Linked DNA regions of Homo sapiens: region 2 is linked to region 1. The links come from fine-mapping of genetic effects on gene expression. A gene starts in region 1. The other region holds a variant in brackets. All regions are shown on one strand. Distances are from middle to middle.

What was found.
Region 2: its variant is fine-mapped to the expression of MPND in whole blood (TOPMed, PIP above 0.99).

What each region holds. Positions count from the first base shown.
Region 1 is chr19:4,342,232-4,345,129 of GRCh38, forward strand. It overlaps MPND (MPN domain containing), which reads left to right and starts at 1,331. Exons shown (of 13, transcript NM_001300862.2): 1 at 1,331-1,369; 2 at 1,477-1,763. The coding sequence starts at 1,363. RefSeq lists enhancers at 243-362, 383-1,114 and a silencer at 1,183-1,472.
Region 2 is chr19:4,401,888-4,404,785 of GRCh38, forward strand. It overlaps CHAF1A (chromatin assembly factor 1 subunit A), which reads left to right and starts at 753. Exons shown (of 15, transcript NM_005483.3): 1 at 753-927. The coding sequence starts at 876. RefSeq lists enhancers at 513-1,210, 1,211-1,906 and a silencer at 721-1,000. The variant A/G (reference allele first, on the strand shown) is at 1,133.

The DNA of each region.
Region 1 (2,898 bases):
TCAGGGTTTTGGAAGGCAGGGGACGGAAAAAAAGCCAAAGAGAAAGTGCGTAAGGAGTTGGGGAAATAAACTGAGGCCGGTTTGGGCTATGCTGAGTCTGCAGGCCTTGGGGATGCCCGTTGTTGGCTGGACAGTCAGGGTGGGGCCCCTAAAGGGTGCCTGGGCTGGACAACAATAGTTCACATGTACCCAGCTCTTGCTCTATGTCAAGTCTTCTTCCTGAGAACATTCCCGAGCACCCTGGAGAGCCTCCCCCGCACCCCTACTGTCCAGTTCCCACTTCCCGACTGCGGTCTGGGCAAAGCCACCCGCACTTGAGCCCATCCCACGGCGTCCCGGAGCTTTAGGAAGTCCCCATCCCGGACTTTCAACCCTGCCAGGGACTGAGGGAAATCCCAGAGCCTGGGCTCCGGGACGAAGGTCCCAGGACAGGGTCGGGGATGTAGTTGCAGAAACAGGGTAGGGGACAAAGGCCGGGGCTGCACTGATCAGGCGCGCAACGAGCCCGGCCCTGCCTCCTGCTCCGCCCAAGGGTATGGAGGGCCGGACTCGGCTGGCCTTATACCCGGAGCTGATTGGCTGGTGAGTCCAGTCCCTGCCTCTGATGGTTTGCGCTCATAACTAAGGGTTTCTACTGATTGGTTTACATGGACGTCTGCCCATTGGTCAAATCCGAGTTGGTGTAATCAGATAGTTGACACGGATTGGTTGGTGCGGGAATCCAGTAGCTTGCTATCGATTGGTTGAGGGTGAAATAAATGGGACTCTTATCATTGGCTGGCGGGCTCCGCAACGGTCCAATCATGGAATCAGTCGAGGGCCGCCCGGGAGGGTGGGAGTTAATTCTTTAGCGACTGAGGCCGGCTTGGGCTCTTTGGCTCCACCTGTGTCTGCGCGAGGCTGTTCCCTATTGGAGTCCGCATTGTTCCCCTGGACCTGAGTTTCTCCCCTGGTCCTAAAGGCCGAGGCCTCTGAGTTCCTCAAGTGCGGTGACCGCAGGTCTCACCTTCTCCTCTCCTTGCAGCAGGCTGAGCCACTCGCGCACCCGCCCCAGGCTTCCACCTTGCAACCTCTATCCCTGGACAGCGAGGCCTCAGTTTCCCCATTCGCACCAATGAGCTCCCGGTCAACACCCCGTCACGCCTCAGTTTCCCGAATGTTCCCAGAGGGCTGAGTTCCCGATCTCTCTCCCGCGTGGGCATCCCCGAGGCCTCAGTTTCTCCGCCCACCCCAGCGCGCCGAGCCCTTCCCCCGACCCCGGCGACGGCCAATGGTTGGGGCGCCCCTCCCCTCCCCGGGGCGGGGCCGCGTGACGTGCCGGGAAGCCGGAGTCTAGAGCTCCGGGCGCGGGGAGGCGCGGCCATGGCAGGTACGGCGGGCCCAGCGGGGCGGAGGCGCGGGGCGCGGGGCTGCAGGGGCGCGGGGCTGCAGAGCCGTGGGGCGAGCGGCCTCCCTGCAGCCTCTCGCTGTCCGCAGCTCCGGAGCCGCTGTCCCCGGCGGGCGGTGCGGGCGAGGAGGCGCCGGAGGAGGACGAGGACGAAGCGGAGGCCGAGGACCCTGAGCGGCCGAATGCGGGAGCGGGCGGTGGACGCAGTGGCGGCGGCGGCAGTAGCGTCAGCGGAGGAGGCGGCGGCGGCGGGGCCGGGGCGGGGGGCTGCGGCGGGCCCGGGGGCGCGCTCACCAGGCGCGCGGTCACACTGCGGGTGCTCCTCAAAGACGCGCTGCTGGAGCCTGGCGCCGGGGTGCTGTCCATCTACTACCTGGTGAGCACCCCGCCTCCCTCGTCCCATCGCGGCTCGGGCAGGAAGGGGAAACTGAGGCCTGGAGTTCCCTTGCTGCAGGACAAGCTTCAGTGTAGGGAGGGGACACTGAGGCCCGGAGCTCCCTTGCTGAGAGACGAGCCCCGGTGTGGCGAGGGGAAACTGAGGCCCGGGGCTCCGTTGACTGCAGGAAGAGCTCCAGTGTGAGGAGGGGAAACTGAGGCTCGGAGCTCTCTTGGCTGCAGGAAGAGCCCCGACATGAAGAGGGGAGACTGAGGCCCGGAGCTCCCTTGGCGGCAGGAAGAGCCCCGGTGTGAGGAAGGGAGACTGAGGCCTGGAGAGCTCCCTTGCTTTAGGACAAGCCCCAGTGTGGGGAGGGGAAACTGAGGCCCAGAGCTCCTTTCCTGCAGGAGGAGCTCCCGTGGAGGGGACACTGAGGCCCGGAGCTCTTTTTACGGGACAAGCCCCATGTGGAGAGAGGAATCTGAGGCACAGATGGGTCCTTCTGGTGGGGAGGACGTAGATTACCAAACACCCCATCCCACAAAGGAGAAGCTGAGGCTCAGAGAGGAGCCACCACCCGCGCAGGGTCAGATGGGCAACACCCCGGCCTTCCTGTGGTTTCCCAGCCGTGAAATGGAATATTTCCCCACCATGGGAAAATTAGGGGATGGTTAAATGAATAAAGCCCTCAGCAGGCGCCTGCCACATGGTAAGCACTTTATCTGTGGTAGGTATTAGTACTTTTTTTTTTTTTTTTTTTTTGAGACAGAGTCTCGCTTTTTTGCCCAGGCTGGAATGCAGTTGCTCGATCTCGGCTCACTGCAACCTCTGCCTCCCGGTTCAAGCGATTTTCTGCCTCAGCCTCCCGAGTAGCTGGGACTACAGGTATGCGCCACCACGCCTGGCTAATTTTTTTTTTTTGCAGTTTTAGTAGAGACGGGGTTTCACTATATTGGCCAGGCTGGTCTTGAACTCCTGACCTCGTGGTCCGCCTGCCTCAGCTCCCAAAGTGCTGGGATTATAGGCGTGAGCCACCATGCCCGGCCTTTTTTTTTTTTTTTTTTTTTTTTTGAGACAGAGTCTCGCGCTGTTGCCCAGGCTGGAATGCAGTAGCATGATCTCGGCTCACTGCAAC
Region 2 (2,898 bases), 60 kb after region 1:
TAACAAACTAATAAATAGACACAGCTGTAATTGCTTTAAGGAAAAGAACAGTGTTGTAGGCACTTGATATTGTCAGGGTTGGGGAAGAAAAGGCTTCCTGGGGTGACGATCTAAGATCTGAAAAGTATAAATTAGCCAGGAAAAGAGCTGCGAAAAGATTGTTCTAGGCAGAGAAAACAGCATGTGCCAATTTCCTGAGGATTAAACCAGAAACGATCCATTTCGTCCATTTCGTTCACTCATTCTACATGTTATTTACTGAATGTCAAATACTTCCGAAGCGCTCCCCAGACTTCGTTTTATTGTTCTTGTAGAAAGCAATTTATAATTTTAATTGCTGTTGCTATATTTAGCCGATGTCCCATTAGGATAAACTCAAAACTCCAGGTTCCTCATCTAAATCCCACTTTCAAGTTGTCATCTGCGCCTTGCGTAAAATGTTCTGGTGACGTAAGAGCCTGGGCCTCCCTCCTCTTAGGGACTATCCCACGCGATCAGCCAGTCGCAGCGCAGAGCAATGAGCTTGACACCTCCTTCCTCCAATCGCAGGGCAGCTCCTCCCAGCCAATGACAGGCCTCCGAGGGGAAGCCCAGTCCCTCGCGGATATGTCAATGGGCGAGCCCTGGGAGGAATGGAAGTCACGGATCTCGCGAGGATGCCCCCGGCGCCCCTCAATTCCCGAGGCGGGCCGTCACGTGACCCGGGCTCGCCCAATTGGCGCGCGGACTGCGGGGGTCGCCGCGGTTCCCGCCAAATACGAGCGCGGCGGCCGCGGCGGCAGCAGCGGCGCGGGCGGGAGGGCGAAGAGCAGCGGCCGCCTGAGGGGAGCCCGCGCCTCCGCCGCCTGAGAGGAGGTCGAGCTGCCGCCGGGGCGATGCTGGAGGAGCTGGAGTGCGGGGCGCCCGGCGCCAGGGGAGCCGCCACAGGTCGGTTCGGGCCCGCGCCGAGGGGAAGGGGGGGCGCGGCGCGCGGCCTGGACGGGCCGAGGCGGCGATGGGAGGCGGACGGGCCTCCGGGCGCCAAGCCTGGTCCTGCGGGCCGGGCGTTCACCCCCTGGGGCCTTCTCATCCCCAGCGAGGGCCTGGCGTCCCCAAGGGCACCCTTGTTGACGTTATTGTTGTAGCCGCGACC[A/G]TATTGTTTGTTTCCGGCGCTTTTGCGTCAGTTCGTCCCTCCAGGACTCTCTGGGGCGGTGGGTCGGAGGGGCCGAGAGGGGAAACTGAGGCCCAGGGAAGCGAAAGGGCTTGCCCTGCAGGTTACTGGATGCGTTTGTGTCCCTTGACCATGTTGGACCTTGCAGCGGGTGGGGAAACTGAGGCCCAAGGTCGCACGGGCTCGGGGACCAGTACCGATGCCGCTGAGGGTCGGGGTAAGCCCGGGTAAGAAGAGGCCCAGATGGTAGAGATGGCCAGGAGGGTGGGACTCCCGAGTTCTTGCTCCTTCCTGATATGCACCGTGACTTCCTCCTCCGTGTGCCTTGGAATGGGGTCTTTGGAGCCCACCACAGGCCTCCTGAAACGTGGGAGGGTGAACCAAGGAAGACCAGACTGTCCCTCTCCCTTGCTGGACTCTGCATTACATAACGCTTTGGCAGCACTTGGCATTACGCTTTGGCACATAGTAGGTGCTCAGTAAATAACGTGAACGAATGAAGGGCTAGAATGGACGCCAGTCCAGTTTCTCAGCCTCAGCAGTGTTGATATTTGTTGCCGTCCTGGGCACGGCACTGCAGGGTGTTAAGCATCATCCCTGGCCTCCGCCTTTTGCAGGCCAGTAGCAGCCCCTCTCACCATGCCTTAGTAACAGCCAGAAATACCATTGCCCTGTGTCCCCTATGGGGCAGATTCCGCCTTGGCTGAAAATCATGGCTGTAGTTCCTTCTAGCCTGTGGGATTTCCCGGAGACATAAAATTAATATAAAGTTGGTACTGTCGTGGAGCTGTGATGTTTTAAGTCAGGATGTTTAACTTTATTTATTTATTTATTTTGAGACTGAGTCTTGCTCTGTTGCCCAACCTCTGCCTCTCTGGTTCAAGCGATTCTTCTGCCTCAGCCTCCCAAGTAGCTGGGATTACAGGCCTGCACCACCATGCCTGGCTAATTTTTGTATTTTTTAGTAGAGACGGGGTTTCACCATGTTGGGCAGGCTGGTCTCGAACTTCTGACCTCAGGTAATCCACCTGCATTGGCCTCCCAAAATGCTGGGATTACAGGCATGAGCCACCATGCCTGGCCAGGATATTTAACTTTAAAAAAAAAAATCGCTACTCGCTAGGACCATGCTATCATGAAAGGAAAGTATATTTTAGTGCCAAATAAAATTAGAAAGGATGTAATCGCAGAATAAAGAGCAGTTAGTAACTTTATACACACATATGTGTTAATCGTGTGTATCTTTGGATCTCTGGATTGGGAGTGTCCCGTTTTATATACAAGATTTTTTAATGAGGGTGGGTCCTGTTTTTAATGAGGTTGTTTCTGTTCCACTTGCACCAAAGCTAGTGACTCAAAGCCACACAAATAGATTTTTGTGATTGTCTCGAAAATAAAGTTAAGTGACTAAAAATCATATCCTTCAGTTAGGGGGTAGAAATCCATGGCTTTTGGTAAGTGGACACTTGAGAATGATACTGTCTTTATTTCTTTGAAGTGGCTAGAAAGGAAACATGAATTTTCTCAGTACCTTTTCTTATTCACTAAGCTTGGGGCGGTGGGTGAGGGGTGGTTTCATGTATGGACGATGGAGTTTTTTAGGAAGCCCCAGTCTGCTTTTAAAAAGTACTCACTTTTATGTAATGCTTACAAAACATACGTAGATTAACCAAAATAACTAAACTAGGTTTTGCCAAGCCAGATCTCCTGGTAAGTGTGAGCTTCCTAAACTTACTCTGTTTAAGGTA